Linked DNA regions of Homo sapiens: region 2 is linked to region 1. The links come from fine-mapping of genetic effects on gene expression. A gene starts in region 1. The other region holds a variant in brackets. All regions are shown on one strand. Distances are between the middles of the regions.

Region 1 (5,540 bases):
TGTGGTAATACAGTAATATCAGAAAAACTATGACAGAAAGAAGGAAAGAGAAAATACTTTCTAAAATTGAGTAAACATATTCTAGAAACATTCTTATTTGAGTATGAGAATTCTGCAAATGATACTGAATTTTAAGCAATGATCCTGGATTATAGGGTTATTCTCAAAGTGGAGGGACTAAACTTAGCACATACAGACAAAAAGATGAAACAGAAATAAATCACACTTATAACCTCATCATTCCAAAGTAATCTTAATAAAATAATAGCAGGAGAGATAAATTTGAAAGGCTTTAATATTAGATACCTGGGTCAATTTAAAATGCCATACCAGACTATATTTTGATGTGCTAACACTGACCTCTCAATAGTTCTTCTGTAAATCATCAAGGAAACTTATGTAATAATCAATTTATACAATTAATGTGGTAGTTTTGGAATTAAATGCATTACCTTATAAAAGAGAAATACAAAGCAATGTAGTGAAACTTCCCAAGCAAATATATGTGTATCAACTGAAATACACATATACATATCATATACATATATATACACACACGTGTATGTGTACTTACAAATAATGCGTGCATACATATACATATGTATGTATAAAATATGTGTATATGTGTTTATATATGTAAACATAAATATAGACATAGACTTGTGAAAGAGACCAATGAAAGCAGATAATTATAATTTGAAATGGTGATTTTAATATGTATTCAGTCATAAAAGTGGACCAACATCAATAGAAAGGAAAGGACAGAGAGCTGAGGGTGTGTAAACTGCTGCTCTCTTTTTGCTGTTGGGTCAACATGTCAGCAATGCTTTCATATGGAGCAGCTTGCAGACATGAAACAAGGTGGTTCCTCCTTTCTTTGCCTTTGGATTGTGCTGTTGTTAGTGTCCAGAGACCAGACTGTCCATATAGGGTTCTTTTTGTGATTCTTTATTATAATCCCCTGAGGAAGTCAGACGAGCCTGGGGTTACTGGAGACAGTGTCTTGCTTGGCGTAGTTATCATCCACAAATCATCTGCTATAAATATATCTCAGAAGGATCATCATCAGGCCAGCTCAGTAGCCTGCAATTTATGAAGGTTATGAGAAACAATGTGAAGGGTGAAGCGCTTTATTAAGGGTGGCTTTCTTTTCTGACCCTGCCCTGACTTCTACTTGAATATAAATGATCCTGGGAGTAAGTGAACCTTTCCATTTAGGATTTAGGCTTTTAAATTGTCCCTTTCAGCTGTTATTCTTATGCCACTGTGTCATGACTTTAAGAATTTCTAAGAAACATCAAAATCAGTGTTACAAGATAATATGAGAAATCACTAGATGCAAAATAGAGGTATAACTGAACCTCACATTACATTCTTTCCTTTTTATGTATAAACCATCCAAAGCATTTTTTCCTCCGTTTTTATTCCACATCTGTCATGCTTTTTTTTCCTCTGGATAAAGTAACAGAACTGACCAAATTGCCTTGCGAAAATCATAATTACGATCTCTAGGGAAGTTGAAATAAATAAAATGTTTTTCTCCTTTGTGTTGCTCAATGTTCTTTGTTTTTAAAAGAAAATGTGTTGCTTAAACGGTGTTTCAAAATTTGTTCTGGACATAAACCCTAATTATTTCCTTTTAACATTTCCTTAAATGAATAAAAAATATTGTAAAGAACCAAAATGACACAAAACCAAAATGCCACCCAGGCTGCTCTCTTGCCGGTGATTTGTTACTGGGAAAATAGTTAAAGCCTGCTGGGGAATTATTAACTGTTTCCCCTTACAGTGTTTATCCCAGGCATTCGTTTAAGACGGGAAAGCCTTGAAGAGGGTCACTCTATTAATATGCATTAAGAAGTAAAGGACCAATTTTAATATTTCAAACAACTCCAGTGGATAACAGACCATAAACTTCCTGTTTTCACTATCAATCTCTTTTAAAATGGTGTTCTTGGCTATCCATAATCGCCCCAGGGGAGAGAAACAAGCGGAGGAAAAAAATGCAAGAGTGAGGGGAACAAATGATGGAAAATTGCTTTATTCAACTTCACCTGCCGCTCGAGAAACTCACCCTTACGAAGATTCCAGCACTTTATATGAATTACCCATTATGGTTTCCTCCCACCACATCACTGCACTATTTTAGCACTTGTTTTGCAAACCACCAACTGCGTTTACAAGTAGAAACATAATCAGGAGGCGAATGACCTTTTGTAGCATGTATCTGAAGCTGGTTTATCAGACACTTCGTCAGCCAACTGTCCAGGAGGCAAAATGACTATCTATGATGATAGATAGACAGACAGATAGATAGTTAGATTAAAAGGTGGGGAAACATCCCTTTTCCCTTTTTCCTTTCTATATAATCTGGTTTTTTCTCTTCACCCCTTTTCTCGCTTCTTCCCACCCCGTCCCCAAACCTGTTACTAGGGAAACTTGAAAAAGAATCAGATACATTAAGACTACAAAACGAAACAAAAGTTTAGACCCCGAAACCATGATTCCATTGCCAAGCACAAAGCAATGCAAGAGCCCAACGTCGGTCGCCGCACCGCGATCCTGACAAAGCCTGTATGGAGCCAGAACAAATAAGATGTTAATTGCAGCCTCGCAGAGAAAAAAATACTATTGTTCCAGCCAGAGACACTCAGCAGCTCGGTAGCTGGGATGTGCCCCCTCCGCTGCGGACTGGATCAATTCTGAATCCCGGTACTGAAATGACAGCTCTCTGGCTGCGACAGGTCTGCGCTGAAAGAAAGAGAAAGACGATCAAGTCCAGCATTCACTTCCCACCCTTCAGAGTCGCCTTCCCATCCTCCGCACCCCCCTGCCTCGCCTCCCAGTGAGTTTCTCTTACAGTTGGTCGCCGCCAGCCCCAGCGGTGGGAACTGAGGATGCAAAAACCTCCCAGACGCAGAAAATACCGCTTTCGGGACGTGCTTGGGTTTGAGTAGCCGTGACGTGCAGGCGAACCGCGGCCCTGGCTGGAGCTCCGTGGAGCCCCCCTCCCGCCAGCCTCTCCCCCGCCCTCCCGCCGGGACTCCCTCCTCTCCCACCCCGCGGCTCCCTTCGCCTTCTCTCTCACACACCCGCCCGCGCCCCCGGCAGGCAGAACTCCAGGAAGTCGCAGCGGCCGCGCCGCGCGAGCCGAGCCTCTGGCGGGCGGCGGGGCGCACCGCAGCTGTGCATAAGAAGGGCGCGCGGCACCCGGGACGCGCGCGCACACGAGCACGCGGGAGGCCGCCGCGCGGACGCGCTCCCGGGACACGCGCACCCCCCGCGCGCGCGCCCAAGGGAGAGCGAGCACTGCGCGCCGGCGCGCACACCCGAGACAGAGCTTTACTATCTCGCTCCCTCTCGCGCCTCCCTCCTCGCTGGGCATTCAAACAGCTTTCCGACATCACCAGCCAAGGATTTTTTTCCCCGCTCTCCTTAGTCGCCGTCCGTCCATCAGTACCTGCAGGGGGGAGGAGGAGGAGGGAGGAAAGCGGAAAGAGGAAAAAGCATAAGCTTGAGCCTTCCGATCCGACCACGAATACTCCTGTAATAAACCCACCGCCCCAACAAATCTGCCATAGCAGCCGCCGCCGCCGCCGGTCACTTCTCGTCTCAGCGCTTTCTTTGCTTCTTGGTTTGTTGGGGGTAGCTTTTATGAAACAAATCTTTGCTATTAAGCCACTTACATTTTGGGGGGTTCCTTAGAGTCTCCCTTGGGGGGGCTTCTCCCTCCCTTTAGCCCCCCTCGGTTTGGAGGTTGGATTCAGTTGGATACGGCGCAAGGTTCTGGGCTCCTGCTGGCTTTTTTTTCCTCTCTCTCATCGACCCCCCTTTGGTTCCCACCCCCCACCTTTTGCTTTTCGTATGTATGCATTTTTAAAAATAAATCCTGATTTTGGAAGCTGAGCCGGGGAAAATGGGCAACGGTGATTGGGACCGAAGGGGAGTCTCTCCGTCACTGTTGCTGGGACGCGTGCCTGTGCTGGTGTCTTAGAGCAAGAGCCTCCCTGAGCTTTCGGAGTGGAAGGTAAGGAAGGGGGTCCAGGGGTCACCTTTTCTCTGCCGGGGGTCGCCACCGTGGAGCTTTGGGCTTAATGTTTGAGAAGGGAGGAAAATGAAAGGAAAGGCTGTTGCTGGCGGATGGGGAGGCTGTGAGCAGATCCGACTGTCTGCATTTACTTAAACGCCGCAGTTGAAAAGTTAGAGAAGTCTGGTTTTCAAGAGATGTGCTGGGTCAGAAGGAATAAGCGGAGAGACCTAGAAAATCTGGCAGTTTTGTGTGATTGGGGTAATTTTATGAGGGGAAAATTTTAGGTTAAAAGGAAGTTAAGAGAAGGCAGTGGGTCTTCTATTGGGGGGAAAAATCTGTGGAGTGATGGCGCCGTCTATGTTCGACTAAACTAAAGTGTCACCCAGAAAATCAGTTTTGAGAATAGCTAAACTCAATGCTGGTTTGCTTCTCAGCAAGAGATAAATAAATAAATAAATAAATAAATAAATAAATAAAACATCCTTGACACCTCCGTGGCCAGCCTTTGCCCCCGCCCCCACCCCTTCTTTAAGAGGGAAACACGGCTTTTTGAACGGGCCCTGCAGTCCAAAGGGGGGTGAGGGTAATGATTTATTTTTTATTATTTAGAACAAAATAAGACTGTGTACTCCAGACTGATTAAAAATAAAGAGCATTATATTGAGTGCGCTCTCTTGAGCAGGCATTAAAGTGAATTCAGAGCTATTTCCTCACTCTCTGATCATTGATGAGCACGGCATTGCAGACATGCACTGTCAAATAAATGAAAGCAAAAGTACCAATTTCATTAGGAAAAGACATACGACCTCTTTTTGAGTTCCTGATTATAAAATGAAGTCCCCTTTCATGGATGGAATTCCTAATTTAGACACTTATTGTCACATTGGCTCTCAACGCCTACACTCTATCCTGAAGAACACTGCGCAGACCTGCATTGCCTGCAAAGTGCAACACCAAAAAAAAAAAAAAAAAAAGGAAATTATTTCCAGAATTTCTTACAACTTTCTCTGTTTTTTTTTAACCTTTAAATGCTCATTGGCTTTATTTTCTCATGAAGAAAATGCATTATTCATTGAGCTATTTGCTTGAAACAGAGAACACTGTTTTGATGGTCCCAGCAGTTCTGATGTTATTTTAAACTGCTGCTATATAGAGATTTAGAGTTGGGGCTGTGTTTGCCTATATCAAGACATAGAATTTGAATTATAATCTGGAAAATGCAGATCTATCTTCAGGGACTTCGGTCACTGGATTTGGTGTGCATGCGTTGGTGTGTGTTATGCAATGGGAAGGAAGAGGGTTTTATCCTTTGATTCAGAGAAGACCCAGGCAAAGGCATGAAAACTCTTAACTATCTATATGTCTGTATGTCTGTCTCTGTTTACAGAACAGTGGAAGAGACTGCAGCCTAAAGACTTTTAAAATTAACTTGGCATCACTTTTATCAGCTCAAAGGCTAAACAAACAAACAAAAGCAGTGTCATTTATTCTAAGAAATAACTTCTTAAAG
Region 2 (5,000 bases), 130 kb after region 1:
CTAGTGTATTCCCCCATGTGTCCTATGGTTAAGTCCCAGGATATCACATACATTCACATTTCTTGATCACAGTTATTTGCCAGTGCAGAAAAATGTTCTATACACATGCAGTCCAGCTGAATTATTATCTCCTTCTTGAAGTCATTTTTATAGCCCCTAGTTGAAATGAATGATTAAATATTCCTCCCATAGTGCCCATTAAGCACTTTTTATAGCATATGGCATTTATGTTGTTCAGCTTTGTAGTATAACAAATTGCTTCTATGTCTGTCTGACCACCCTTCTCCCAATCCTAAAAACTGCTTTAGGATAACTACATTGTTTCATTCCTTTTTGAATTACAACCAGCTTTGTTCCTCAAAAGGGTGATTCCTGAGATTGGCAGTTTTATACATCCATGCATACAAACACACACAATTTCAAGAGCACTTACATTTAGCAGGTGTCCAGAATACGAAATGGTAGGCCATGAACTCTAGAGGGCTTGAAAAGCCTTCAAAGATCACCTCATCGGAAGAGGCTACCCATGATAAAGTATTTTAAAGCAAGCAACCTCCCTTGATAATCTCATTGCTTATGAGAAAATAGTAGATATTAAATTATAGAAGACATGGGATATTTAAATATGCTTTAATGGTTTGTGGCCTATTTATTATTATATAGAGTGTATACATAGCCATTCACTACCAATAAAAAGCATTTATTTTTCCATATATTTGAGGCAAATGAAAAGAAAATATAATCAACATATTCCAAATTATTTAAACTAATTTGCTATTCATTTATCAGTTCAAAAGCATTTACATAGTTTTGAGAACTTTTTTCTTTTAAATATTTTATTCAGTTCTTGAAAGATTATTTTACATATATTGCCTAACAAAATATGTGCTTCTCACTAATTATATCTGTTAATTCTTTTGTTTTAGTTCACTATTAATTCCTATCTTGGTCTCTTTATTTTTAATACAGATGCTATGTGTGTAACTTTAAGCCATTGCATTCCTTATTCTAGAAATTGCCCTTACATTCTCACATGGCCTGATTTTATATAAAATTGAGGTCATGTATTCTTCATATCAAATTGGTTCTTTTTTAATGCAAGATATTTCAAATAAAAGTTTCCTTAATGTGAATGTTTCTTAAACTCAAATAAAACTTAAATATAGAATATTTCTTGTGTTAATGAAAATCTTTCCAATATGTAAAAATGAAATTTCTTTCAAAAACAAGAAAGAAACTAAGCCAATTGAGAGGTAAAAAAATGAAAACTATAGATGAAGAAAATGGATGTTAATAGCATAAATTATTTCATTGGCATTACCATATATTGTAAAATTTGACCTAACAAAATCTCATAGATTTTTATTCATTAAATAAAATAATATCTTAATTGTTTGAAGTTATTTTAGTTCAGTTTGGGTATGATACTATATTTTTGGTTTTATTCTGGCCAATGTACCCTTAACTTGGAAAATTACATTTAATTACATAATTTGCTAGTTTGACCTATTTCTTTTATATCTTAAAAGCATAAGCAGATACAAGCAATTCAGTACTTCTGATCATTGTATAATTTACATTATGGTCAGCATTGCATAATGAAAATCACTTATTCGTTGCAAATGATGGTAGTTCCTTATGCAATCAAAGATGGAGGTAAACATTTAGAATGTGAATTATTTCTGAAAATGACAAACACATACACATACACACATACACACAACTCAAGGACATTTCTCCCCTAGGGGTGGTTGTCATATACTTCAGTAATGCAGATTAAATTTCTAGTAGCTAGTTGGATAGAGCTTTTCCTATCAGGGAAGCTAAAATTCATTAAAAACTAATTAGAAATGTATGGGAGGTTAATTTTCCACGTTAAGCCTTATGAAAGTGAGATAAGTAATTCATAAAGTATCAAAGGATTGCTCTGACCAGAACCAAAGAAAATGACATTACCAAGTATTGTTTCCTGATAAATCACAGAAGCTATGAAAACAAGACAAGGCAAAAACTCAGGTTCAACTCATCTTGCTTTTTGTCAGAGGAAAACAACAAACGTAATGTCTACACAATTCTATTAAATGGTGGTTCCTGGCAAAGAATCTGTGAAGTAGCAGCTGTCCACACAGGTGGACTGCCTCCATTTTAGTATTCTAGCTAGAGAAAATCATGCCATTTGCCAGAATACATTTACCCTCAGCAAAACGTCACTGGGTATGAATTCTAGCTAGATTCAATGTCCAATTACTGAGCCCACCACAGGACACTATAATAGCAGCATGTCCAGTTCTCTGAATAAATTTGTCAGCTGCATTCAACATGCAATTTAGATATGTGGCATATAGTGGAAACCAAAAGGAAATATTCAAATACTATAATTTTTCCTTTTGCTAAACTTATAATTTCTAAAATACATTGGTATCATTTTTAATGTTGTCTTCCAGTTAAATGGCTTGGGTTATTTCCATGCTGGAAAAATTAAGTTGATTCTGTTGA[T/C]ATCCTTTCCTGCTGCCTCCTCCAGCGGATGTTCTCACTCCTCCCTGGTGATCCTAAGAAACAGGACAGCTGCTGACGGTAGTAAACAGCAGTACAATTCCTGCAGTCCCAATTCGGATCACATACCCTGTTAAGGCAGGAACTCCCCACCTCCAAGTCTCCAGGTGAAAGGCAACAAGGAGAGAGGGAGAAATAATAGATAGTATGTAGACAGTGCCCTAAATATTTTCAAACAAGCACACTTGGATTTACATATTTATATAAATGACCTAAACTTCTTTATTTGTCCCTTTCTTTTGACTCACCTAGGTTTTCAGTTGGTAACTCCTTGCAGGCAGTCTCAGGCGTGACTAGTTAATTCCATGGTGCTACTTTGAACCTAAATTAGGCTTCTACAGTTACTACATATTTCTTTGTATGTGTCAGTGTAGCACAGGTTGTGCTTTGGTGTCCTCTGCAGGCTTGTTCAGTGTCGATGTGGTGCTTGCTTGGTTGACTTCAGTGAGTGCACAGAGTATTATGCTGCTACGTTCCAAAATATGCAGGCGCCAGACATGTATTTTCTCTTTTATTATATAGGCTGTAGGTGATGTTACATAAACCTGTTTTCTCATGCCCCGTTTCTTTAGATTCTGCTTTTTTGTTGTTGTTGTTTCAAACTTGTTTGTCCTCTGATCAAGTCTAAGGTTTTTAAACAGGACAATGCAAATATGTTTTACTATTAGGTTTTCTACTCATCATTACACTGTGTTCAAAAATGGTAATTGAAAATGGAAAATGGAAAATTGTTATGAGACCAATTAGATAATGTGCATGTCAAGTTCAAGTTTAACTGAGAAGTGTTGTATGTGACCATTATATTGTCTAGTATTTTCTATAAGAATGGCAGATTTTTATTCATATCAATCATATAATGATTTAAACCATATTATTACATTTAAAATCTACCTTAAGGTAAAATGAAAGTTTCGTGTAGTGAATATATACAAATATTCAGATATCAAAGAGATTTACAATGTCCCTGAATGGTAAAACTGAATAATTGTACAAATATTGTTTCTTTCCAAGGTATTTTATAGTTTTAATGCAGTATTTTAAAGGTCATCTTTTTCCACTCTTTTCTCCACCATCTCATCTTCTGTCTTGTTCAATCCCTTCTCTTTTCCCCCTTCTTTTTCTCCCTAACTTTCTCTTCTTTTCTCCTCATTCTCTCTCTCAGTTTTCTGATCCCCTTTTTAAGAGCTTTGTAATCTGGAGTTAAATGAAAATGTTAACAGGTGAAAATAACTTATATATTTTGTTAAAATAAGTGAGTAACGATGAGCAATTTGATTGACTAAGAGCTAAATCTTACTGTGAACTCACAGTAATTAAATTAGCAATTTACAGATAAAGCATCAAAATAAGACAAAATAGACATAAGTCCAACCATGAATATATATATATAGAGAGAGAGAGAGTGATAGAGGTGACCAAATAAATTAGTGAAACAAAGAATTGTTGAATAAATAGGACTAGTAAATTAATTATTTGAAAAGGTAAAAGAAAGTAAATTAAAACAATAAAATAAGTCATAAACATATTTGCTTAAATTATAAATGTCATACGATACTTAAGGTCAAGTAGCAAGGTCCTCATAAAAATAACTGATAAGTGGAACCTAAATAAAATTGTCAAAAAATTAGACTCATAATCATAAAAAGTAAAATAAGAATTATAGTAATAACAATAGCACCTATCATTTGCTGAAATTCTACATTCTCTCAAAAAACCTGCTAAGTGAATTATTTATAATAGCACACGTAACCATCTATTAATCACATTACTCTGTAAACTTCAAGGGAGGGACATAGGGTTTAAAGATTTAAAGTAATTTATTAAACTCAGAGTCAGAATTTAAAACTTAGCCTGACTCCATACATTCATTTAAAACATTCCTTGTTTGTGGTCATTTAGGTTGTTTTAATTAATTAATACTATAACAACTAGTTGATATTTCTGATACTCACAAACATACACATACATGTGTTCATTTAGGAGATAAATTTTTCTTTTTTGAGATGGAGTCTGGCTCTGTCACCCAGGCTGGAGTGCAATGGCACGATCTTGGCTCATTGCAACCTCTGCCTCACAGGGTCAAGCGATTCTCCTGCCTCAGCTTCTCGAGTACATGGGATTACAGGCGCCCACCATAATGCCTAGCTAATTTTTATATTTTTGTAGAGATGAGGTTTCACCATGTTGGCCAAGCTGGTCTTGAACTCCTGACCTCAGGTGATCCGCCCGCCTTGGCCTCCCAAAGTGCTGGGGTTACAGGCATCAGCCACTGTGCCTGGCCACTTCTTTTAACTGTTATACTTTAATCATTGAAAAAGACATGCTACTCCTATTTTATTCATTTAATGTCACCTTGGTAGGCATTCATATTGCTTATTGATTTTTCCCCTATTACAAATAAGTTAACATGAAATTTTAATATACCTATGTTTTGCTCATATTAAAGG

The links. PIP is the estimated chance that this variant, and not a neighbour inherited with it, causes the effect.
Region 2: its variant is the best candidate, but not a certain one, in a credible set for the expression of ADGRB3 in spleen (GTEx, PIP 0.74).

What each region holds. Positions count from the first base shown.
Region 1 is chr6:68,631,974-68,637,513 of GRCh38, forward strand. It overlaps ADGRB3 (adhesion G protein-coupled receptor B3), which reads left to right and starts at 3,309. Exons shown (of 32, transcript NM_001704.3): 1 at 3,309-4,027; 2 at 5,418-5,540. LOC127898563 reads left to right here and starts at 3,917. Exons shown (of 1, transcript NM_001414704.1): 1 at 3,917-3,994. The coding sequence starts at 3,917. The coding sequence ends at 3,994. ADGRB3-DT (ADGRB3 divergent transcript) reads right to left here and starts at 2,351. Exons shown (of 2, transcript NR_125872.1): 1 at 2,212-2,351; 2 at 690-1,083. RefSeq lists a silencer at 3,048-3,257.
Region 2 is chr6:68,758,556-68,763,555 of GRCh38, forward strand. The region is part of intron 3 of ADGRB3 (adhesion G protein-coupled receptor B3); the gene reads left to right. Among named protein-coding and RNA genes, the nearest start is that of ADGRB3, 130 kb to the left of the region's middle. The variant T/C (reference allele first, on the strand shown) is at 2,497.